3 linked regions of the Homo sapiens genome follow. The protein of the gene in region 3 interacts with the protein of the main gene of each other region in a pairwise test. Each region holds a gene or a part of one and is shown on either strand. Other genes may lie near its edges.

The links.
Region 1: the proteins of PODXL (region 3) and IQGAP1 interact in binary tests that used the Homo sapiens proteins (3 or more experiments, as listed by UniProt).
Region 2: the proteins of PODXL (region 3) and SGTA interact in a two-hybrid assay, tested with the Homo sapiens proteins (one large-scale study listed by BioGRID).

What each region holds. Positions count from the first base shown.
Region 1 is NC_000015.10:90,391,134-90,394,785, reverse strand, and holds part of IQGAP1 (ras GTPase-activating-like protein IQGAP1), read right to left. Parts: intron 1-3,652. UniProt on the Homo sapiens protein: Plays a crucial role in regulating the dynamics and assembly of the actin cytoskeleton.
Region 2 is NC_000019.10:2,754,084-2,756,765, forward strand, and holds the end of SGTA (small glutamine-rich tetratricopeptide repeat-containing protein alpha), read right to left. Parts: intron 1,851-2,682; 3' UTR 632-1,850; downstream 1-631. UniProt on the Homo sapiens protein: Co-chaperone that binds misfolded and hydrophobic patches-containing client proteins in the cytosol. Mediates their targeting to the endoplasmic reticulum but also regulates their sorting to the proteasome when targeting fails.
Region 3 is NC_000007.14:131,546,482-131,550,133, forward strand, and holds part of PODXL (podocalyxin isoform 1 precursor), read right to left. Parts: intron 1-3,652. UniProt on the Homo sapiens protein: Involved in the regulation of both adhesion and cell morphology and cancer progression. Functions as an anti-adhesive molecule that maintains an open filtration pathway between neighboring foot processes in the podocyte by charge repulsion.

The sequences.
Region 1 (3,652 bases), on a different chromosome or scaffold from region 3:
GAACTGAAGAGGGGAAGCTTTTCTCCCTCCAATCTCTATGATCTTTATTCCTGGCCTTAGAGTTACTGTAAATCCCAGATATTGGGGCTCCTCCAACTTGGGAGGGGTGGAGGTTATGGAGGAAACAGGATGGAACCAAACCAAAAAGGCAAACTGGGTCTAGCGCTAGAGGGGAAAGAGGGGCCCTCGGAACACACAAGATACAGGCCGGTTCACCAAGGTAGGAGAAAGAACTGGAAGAGGTTAATAGCTCACTAATAACGAAGAGCATGCCATTTGTCCTTGGTGCACTCACAACACTTTTTAGGGGTGGCAGCAGCCACATAGGTGGCTGACAGGGATTCTAGTCCTCTTTTCTCACCATAACATTCCCAGGCTTCTTTCCTTTGTCCTCTCTAGTTTACAATCTAAATAGGTGCTTCCAACCTTGATTTTTTAAAATCAAAGCCTTAAACAACAACAAAAATCACCACACCCAGTTTTATGATTGCCTCCATAAAATAGACCAGGCACCTTTCCATGATGCCAGGCCAATGGGCAGGGTGTGCTAGGGTAATATGCCACTATTATGCCCTCCCTTAAAAAAAAAAAAAAAAACCTGAAGATCATCACAAATGTCTCCACTGCCTTTTTTTTTTTTTTTTTTTTTTGAGACAGAGTTTTACTCTTGATGCCCAGGCTGGAGTGCAATGGCACTGTCTCAGCTTACCGCAAGCTCTGCCTCCCGGGTTCAAGCAATTCTCCTGCCTCAGCCTCCCGAGTAGCTGGGATTACAGGCACCCGCCACCACGCCCGACTAATTTTGTATTTTTAGTAGAGACGGGGGTTTCTCCATGTTGGTCAGGCTGGTCTCGAACTCCCGACCGCCAGGTGATCCGCCCACCTCAGCTTTCCAAAGTGCTGGGATTACAGGCGTGAGCCACCGGGCCAGGTCAGTTACTCCTTAAGTATGCAAAAGCACTCAACAAAAAAACACCTCAGGGGATCATGCCTGCTGGGTGGTCTTTAAAGGAAATGGGCTACTTTCCTATACTGGAAAAAAACACCTGACAGAAAAAAAGACGCTCTAGAGTAGCTGAAAATAAAATGCCTGGCTAATGCAGAACCTGATGAAGAAATAGGATGAAGTGTAACATTCTACTGAGGTCATGATATCCCAGCATAAGGCAGAGTTTTAAATCTTGTTTCTCAACAGGGGGAGGAGTGGGGGCCAAGGAAGGAGCATCGGAATCACTAGAGACATTTAAAATACAGTCGGCCCTCCTTATCCATGGGTTCTGCATCCATGGATTCAACAAACTATGGATCAAAAACAGTCAGAAAAAAATAAAGAAAGATATAAATAAAACAATACAGTGTAACAACTATTTATGTAGCATTTACATTGGATCAGGTATGATAAGTAATCTAGAGATATATCTAGAGTAATCTAGAGGTATGATAAGTAATCTAGAGATGTTTTCAAGTATATATTATGCAATGTGCTAAGGTTATATGCAAATACTATGCCATTTTATATAAGGAAGTTGAGCAACTGTGGATTCTGATATCTGCAGGTGTCCTGGAACCAAACCCCCACAGATACCAAGGGACTACTATGTGTCTGGATCTCCCACCCCGACCTACTGAACCACAATCTCTATGGTAGGGCCCAGATAGGTGTATTTTTTTTTTTTTTTAAGTTCCCCAGGTGATTCTAATGCACACACCTGGTTAACAACCATAGTTAAAAAAATGATGAGGCCAGGCACAGCAGCTCACGTTTGTAATTCCAGCACTTTGGGAGGCTGAGACGGGCGGATCACCTGAGGTCAGGAGTTTGAGACCAGCCTGGCCATTATGGTGAAACCCAGTCTCTACTAAAGATACAAAAATTAGCCAGGCGTAGTGGCGGATGCCTGTAATTCCAGCTACTCAGGAGGCTGAGGCAGGAGAATCGCTTGAACCCGGGAGGTGGAGGTTGCAATGAGCCAAGATTGCGCCACTGCCCTCCAGCCTGGGCAACAGAGCGAGACTGTACAAAAAAAAAAAAAAAAAGATAGAAACATTCTTCAATCAAGAAAACTACAAGTAGACCAAAAAACTCAGGCTTCAGTTTCTTCATTAAATGAGATGGTTGAACTAGATTAGCAGTTGAACTAGTTATTGGTAGTGTTTGGGGGAGGGGAGGTGTTAGCCAAAACACCCTCTGTAACAAGTGAATTTTATTCAAGAAATTCAACAGTAAAACAAAAGCAGAGCTACTTTGGATGGGGGAAGGAAGGTGTGTTGAAGCTCTTCCCTCTCACCCCCAGGTCACCTCAGTGGAATCACCAAAGCTCCACAGAGCACAAGATGGTCTCTCAGAACAGCTGCAGCTTCCAAATTCTTTGACCTTCCAAACCTTGAAATCCACAATTTAAATGGCAGAGATCTTACAGTTTTTGTTTTCTTATAAACTTCATATGAGAAAATGCCCCCTTTTCTAGTGATATAGCATGCCTTGCTATGTCATCTTCTATTATTTAGAAAGACAAGTGTTATCCTCCTCACTTAAGTCATCACTGAAACCCAAGCTCCAGTTTCCTGGAAGTTTTAAGCTCAGAAAAGAAGCCTAGACACAAGAGGGCATGCAAAATACAGGTTAGTGTTTGCCCCAGGAGAAGGAAGAATGGGACCAGAGGGGCACAAAAAAGACTTTAAATGTAGCGATGTTGGTTTTGTTTTGTTTTGTTTTTAGAGGAAAGGGAAATATCTCAAATGTTAACATTTGTTAGTTCTGGAATACAATGATGTTTGTTGTACTGTTCTCTGGACTTTCTTGTAGCATTTTAAGATTTTCAGAATTAAAATACACACATACACACACACTTGTTTATTAGCACCACTTCAAACACCCTTTTTATTAAACGTTAATTACAAATATTTCATTATCCCTCACTTGACTTTTCCACCAAAGCTCACTTATAGAATACATGATCTATAATTACATCTACCCTGGGACTCTGCAAAAGAACACAAGCACCAGAACAAAAGAAATGAATCACTGATAACAAAATGACACTCTAAAATTAAGACCACAAGGTTGTGGGGCATCTGAAAAAGGAAAAGAGCAGCTTTACATTCACTTCACAAAGAATGCAGAGGATGCTGACTCTGAATATTGCCAAACAGATGGACCTACACCAACAGCACCACGCTTCTAAGCCTCCCAAACCAAGCAGCCACTCCGCAGGTCATAGGAGGAGGAGACTCAATTCATATATAAATCAAAATTCATGAAGCATAAGTGAAACATTAAAGCCAATAACTTCAAATCCTAAAAATGCTATTTCCACCCCACAGTTGGTAACGCCCAAAACATGCACAATAAGCATAAGACTGAACAATAGAAACCTGGAAAACCGTTCAGTACACTTAAATGCCCATCACAGTGATTCATGATAAACTCTCATCAAGGCTACTTATTGCCATAAATAAATACCCTACCTATACTTATTCCCTCAACCACCAGCTTCCCAGTTACATCTATAACATACTCAAATAAATCTTTTCTTTTTTTTCCCCCCACCAAAAACAGGAGTTTTGTCACCCAGGCTAGAGCACAGTGGTGAGAGCACGGCTCACTGCTGCCTCGACCTCCCGGACTCAAGTGATCCTCCCTCCTCAGGCT
Region 2 (2,682 bases), on a different chromosome or scaffold from region 3:
TACAGTATGCTAGAAAAGCAACAGACAAAGCCAGGTGCGGTGGCTCACGCCTGTAATCCCTGCACTTTGGAAGGCTGAGGCAAATCACCTGAGGTTGGGAGTTTGAGACCAGCCTGACCAACATGGAGAAACCTCGTCTCTACTACAAATACAAAAAATTAGCTGGGCGTGGTGGTGCATGCCTGTAATCCCAGCTACTTGGAAGGCTGACGCAGGAGAATCACTTGAACCCGGGAGGTGGAGGTTGAGGTGAGCCGAGATTGCGCCATTGCACTCCAGCCTGGGCATCTAGGGTGAAAGTCTCAAAAAAAAAAAAAAAGCAAAGCAAAGCAACAGACAATACGATCACTCTCTGCTGAGGACCGAGGCATCTCACCCCACCCTGGGGTGACCCTCTACACCGGGATGCAGCTGGGGACGGAGGCGGAGGGAAGGGAGACAGCAGAGGGTAGAGGCTGACTGTCCGAAACCTCCCATGACCCGTGACCCGTGACCCAAGAAGTGCGGCTCCGGCGTCGCGGGGATTCACTCACAAGCAGCCCAGCTGATCCACAAACTCCGCGTCGGGGGTTTTCTCGAGGTTTGGGGTTGGAGGGTATCGGTGGCGCCAAGGTCAACACGAAGACAGACAGAGGTCACAACGCCTATTTATTCCCCACACGTCACGCCCTGCACCCCGGGTGGGCTTGGCACACACCTCACCGCCATGAGCGGCTGCAGGGCCGCGGCGGCCCCCGTTCCTACTGCTACCTACGATACACGGTACTGCGCCTACCTCACAGACGGCCAGGAGCCAGGGAGCCCCAGGATGCTCCGACTGACAACCCTGCTGCTGGGACCACGGCGCCGTGGGCTCGTCTGCCACCCCCAGGCCTCAGGAACCCAGACAGGCTGCCTGCTGTCCGGCTCTCCGGCTGCTTTCCTGGTGGCTGTTTTAGGGCCAAGGTGGGTGGCACCTGAGGTGTCCCGTGGCCTCCACCCAGCACAGGAGGGGTAAGCTTCCCTGGGGGGCCCCGGGCCCATGAAACATCCAGGACAGAAGGACAGCAGGATGGGACACAGACAGAAACGGCCCAGCTGCCTTCCCTGTGCCCGGGGCTAAGGCGGCCGGGACAGAAGGTCATGATGTCGCCCCTGGCTCTCAGTCGCGAGGACCAGAAAATGAGGGTGGGAGGAGGGGAAACATGTCTGTCAACATGCCCAACTGGAGAAAAGTCACAGAAACTGGTCCTATGCACCCAGGACGGCTCCTGAGCCGCGGAGGCGTGGGGTGACCGCAGCCGTCTCTTAGGTGTCTGCCACTAAAGAGTTCCTCATGCAAACACACATGGCCCGCGGTGCCCAGGCCGCAGCTGGCAGTGAGCTCTTCCGAGCAGGCACAGGGCCGGGGTGGCCGGGAGGTCGACTCGGAAAGAGGCTTCTCACAGACGGGAGAGTTCCTGCAGACAGACCACGGGATGGGGGGCGGGGGCTGTAAAAGGCTTTGGAAGCCACACGATCCGCCACACGGCTGAACGTGAAACCTGCCACTTCTCTGAGAGCGGCCCGGGAGCACCCCAGGATTCTAGAAAACACTCAAGTGACCGAGCTTTCTGGGGGCTGGAAGGGAGGTCGCTGCTGGTCTGTGCTCAGCTTGCTGGCTCTCGTTTCAAGAAGGGTCTGGGGGCTGTAAGGGAGTTACAAAAAGGGAGTGGAGGAGGGCAGAGATAAAAGGGGAAAATCCATCTTGACATGCAGGTCCGAGGTCTCTCTCTTCCCCTCTCTCAGGCAGTCCAACAGGAGGAAGTGGCAGACAACCAGAAGGCTTCCTTCGGGTCGGCCAGGGAAGGACGCGGTCACACCGGGAGCAGCTGGAAGGGGACAGACATGAAGGCTGTCAGAGCGCAGGTGGGGACCAAGGCTGCACCACACACTCCAGGCAGCAGGAGAGGCCCAGAGTGGACAGCCAGGGGCCACAGCGGCTATTTCAACGAACGTCAGAGCCACAGCTGCACCAGAAGCGTTCCACACACTCGGGGCCACGTGTGGCTGGTGGCGCAGAGAACATCGCCATGACCTAGAAGGGTCTACAGTATGGTGGTACTTTGTGTATGAGGTTACGGTGGTAAAAAATCCACCTCAACTATTAAAAAAAGAAAAGGAAAAATAAATAAAAGCTTATTTAAAAAAAAAAGGGAAGACTGGAAGAAAAGGCGGCCAAAATATTAATGTTGGTGGCTCTGGGTGAGAAGATTAAGGTTGGGCTGAATGCACGGCTCACACTTTGGGAGGCCGAGGCGGGAGGATCGCTTGAGCCCAGGAGGTTGAGGCTGCAGTGAGACGTGACTGCACCACTGCCCTCCAGCCGGGGGGACAGAGCAGGACGGTCTCAAAAAAAAAAAAAAAAGATTAAGATTGTTCTTGCTGCTTTTTAACATTTTTGTATTTTAAATTTGTCTACAGTAATTATGGTTTAAAAATGAAAGAGAGTGTATATGAGGAGGGGACAACGACAAAATGAAGAGGCCACATGGGAGCAGAATGGAAACACCTCTGGGGAGGCCCGGAGCCTCCCGCCCCCAGGGAGCCGGCGTCTGCTGGAGACAGACAGGACTGAACTCAGGGGAGCCTCCCACCCCTGGGAAGCCGGTGTCTGCTGGAGACGGACAGGACTGAACTCAGGGGCCCCTGGGGAAGGAAACC
Region 3 (3,652 bases):
TTGGGAGGCTGAGGCGGGCGGATCACTTGAGGCCGGGAATTCAAGACCAGCCTGGCCAACATGGGGAAACCCCATCTCTACTAAAAATCCCAAAATCAGCTGGGCTTGGGGGCAGGTGCCTGTAATCCCAACTATGGGGGAAGCCGAGGTGAGAGGATCGCTTGAACTCCTGAGGCGGAGGTTGCAGTGAGTCGAGATCGTGCCACTGCACTCCAGCCTGGGCAACACAGTGAGGCCCTGTCTCAAAAAAAAAAAAAAAAAAAAAAAAAAAGTCTGTTTTGACTCAAAGCCCCAAAGTGAAGGGCAGTGCCCCCTAGGGGTGAGCTGAGGAGCACCAGGCAGGAATAGGAAGGCAGGGGGCGCCATCTCAGTGGCTTCTTAGCTAAGCCCACCCTGGCCACCTTCATCTAAAACTGCGGTCTCCAACTAACCCTGCCTCCCCGCACTGAGGCCCCCAGCCTGAGTAATGGGGAAGGGCCTTGAAGAAGAAAACCTGGCCCTGTGAGGTCGCAGAGGATGCTGCTCTAGCATGGCGTTGGGGGTGGGGTAACAGGGTCTGTTGACTCACACTGGGCTAGGGCTGACGCCAATACAAGAAATAAAATCAACATGCCAGGTGCGGGTGGCTCACATCTGTAATCCTATCACTTTGGGAGGCTGATTAGGCGGATCACCTGAGGTTGGGAGTTCAAGACCAGCCTGACCAACAAGGAGAAACCCCGTCTCTACTAAAAATACAAACTTAGGTGGGCGTGGTGGTGCATGCCTGTAATTCCAGCTACCCCAGAGGCTGGGGCAGGAGAATCACTTGAACCCGGGAGGCGGAGGTAGTGGTGACCCAAGATTGCGCCATTGCACTCCAGCCTGGACAAACAAGAGTGAAACTCCGTCTCAAAAAAAAAAAAAAAAAAAAAAAATCAACACGTGTGGATGCTTTCTGCACATCAGAGGCACCACCTACATGATCCTATTTAGCCCTTGCTATGGAGGAGGGCACAATACCTATTTTCCCGCTGGAGAAGCCCAGGTCAAGGAACAAGTCTGAGATCACAAGGCTAACAAGTGTCGAAGCTGTGGCTAAAATCCAAGCCTCTTAACTGCAGAGTCTAGGGCATCAGCAGAGATTTCCATTTTTCTTCTCTTCACCATCACAGCAAAATTTTTTGTCAAAGGAATTCTTACGTAGAGACCTATCATACGGAACAGTTAAAAGTAGGCCTTCGTGAAGAGGATGGACGTAAAACTCCCCCCAAATCGGCCTCCTCTTAATTTTCCTCTCCAGGTATGCACCCCAAGCCCTCAGTGGCCCCCAAGGCAGCTCCACGGAATACCACCCGCAGGTTTCAAAGTCACTGGCCCCCGGCTGCTGCTGTCACTGAGAGCTCATAGCCAAACCCCTAAGACAGTATTTCCTTGGCCCTGCACTCACCTGCTCTGAGGTGAGAGGGAGAGATGGGGAGCAGAAACACTTCTTCCCTATCCACAGGCCAGTGGGGGAACCCAGGTCCTTCCCCTCCTACCCTGCCCAAGGCCCAGCTTATGGGGGTCCTGGGACACCTCGGATCCCTGTTGCAGCTCAAGACCCAATTAGGAAGGAGCCAGGTTTCTTTGTGCATTACCAGAAACTGCCCCTCAGGACCAGAAGGCTACAGCCACATAACTGGAGGACTAAGTGGGACCAGGCTTCCTGAGAGCTGTGTTTCCTGAGAGCTGTGTGCAGAGGCGAAGCTGATCTGACCGGCAAGGTGAGGACAGAGGGCAGCTACAGAGACGTCCAAGGTTTGCAGGGACCAGTTCTGCAGTAGCATTTGCCAGTCACCTACTCCAAATATCCACTCTCTGCTTCCTCCTTGTAACTGAACCACTGTTTTTTGGGTAGGCACTTGGGTGCCTGAAATAAAAATTACTCTTCCCTAAGTTCTCTTTCCTGCCTGCCTTTCAGCTAGTGTGACCACATGCTAAGTTCTGTTCAACAAAATGTGACTAGAAGTGTCACATGTGGTTTCTGGGAGGCACACTCTAAAGAGGAGCCACATGCTTCTTGTTCCTTCCTTTTTCCTGATGGCTGGAACTCCAGCAGCCACCTTGGACCACGAGGCCACGTGTGAATGATGGCAGAACCACTATACCACCCCTCTGAAGTTCTATGATATGAGAGAGATATAACTGATGCCTGTCTTATTTAATCCACTACTCTTTTTTGTTGCTATGAGCAGCCAAATCAAGTTCTAACAAACACAAGCCCCAATCCTCAGCTGAAGGATCCTTTGGGTGGGGACAGCACAGGAGACATGGCCCCCTCCTGCTTCCTACCAGGAATCCCTGCTCCTTCCTGCCCATATGCCCCCAGGACCTAGGCCGGCCCCCACCTGCCACCTCTTTCTTGAATCAGGTAGCCTTGCATTTACAGAGCACAGGCTGGCAGGCAAGTTCTAAGCCAGCCCTGACACCTACTCACTTACTAACTCATTCATTCAACCTATATTTATGGAACAGCTACTTTGAGCTAAGTGCTATTCTAGGTGCTGTGGCTACAGCACAATGGAAGTCCCTGCCCTCATGGAACTTACAGTCTAACGGGGAAGAGACAGACAAACAAACAAACCAATGAACACATATCAGGTGACGAGTGCTATGGAGAAAATAAAGGCGAGTAGGAGGAAAAGAGTGTGCTGGGGGGGAGGGGTTTCTAAGCAGAGCAGCCCCGGTAGGCCTCTTTGAGAAAGTGGCATTCATGGGGAGAGCTGAAGGAAGTGAGGGAGTGAACCACGTACATATTGGGAGAAGAGCTGGTTGTATGATCTACTGCAAGTCCTTGCATCTGTGCCTCAGTTTCTCCTCTCTGGAATGGTCTGTGAGATAAAGGTCATGCAAAGGCAGGCTACCCCAGCTGGAGGGCTCTGTGGTTCCAATCAGTGTGTTGGGAGTAGGTTGGCATGGGAACCTGGCTGGATGGAGACCAAAGGGACTCAGTCCTCAGGCAGAGCTCCATGAATTTCAGGTAAGAAGGAGCTGTGGCTTCAGCCTCACACACAGCCAGTATGTTCAAAAATTACAGAGTGCCCTCCTCACCGGCTTGCTTAACTGCCGTCCCTTCTACTCTGATCAGGGTCAGGTAGCTGGAAGGTTAAGAAATCAGACAGCGTAGACCCCAGGTCAGTCCACACATCCCTAGGGGCCTGGCTCTGGGAGGTCCCTGCACCCCAATCCAGGGCCAGATAGCAAGCCTCTCTCAGCCGCTCCTTAGAATTCTCTTCCCCCTGAGTGGAGGCACATACATAGCCTTCTGGCCATGACAATTGGTGGACGAGGTGCCACCCTACACCCTGGTCCTCGGAAGTGTGAGGTGGCTTATTCCCAAGGGGAATAAGGCTACAAAAGAAGAGAGGGTGGTGGTGATATATGTCGGGGAAGGGGGTGGGGATGGTTGGAGGTGGCCCAGGGGCCAACCTTAGCTGGGGGACCCTCTTAGCTGAGGGTCTGTGCTTGCTGCTGCTCCAGCGATTCAGGGCAGGGCCAGGACTCAGAGACAATGCAAGAGCTTGGGATGCGGGAGATGTGGGCAAGGGCCACTGATGAATCTGCAGCTGAACGCTGCATTTTGTGCAGCCAATTATCCCGCAAACATTTCTTAACCACCTATTTGGCTAGA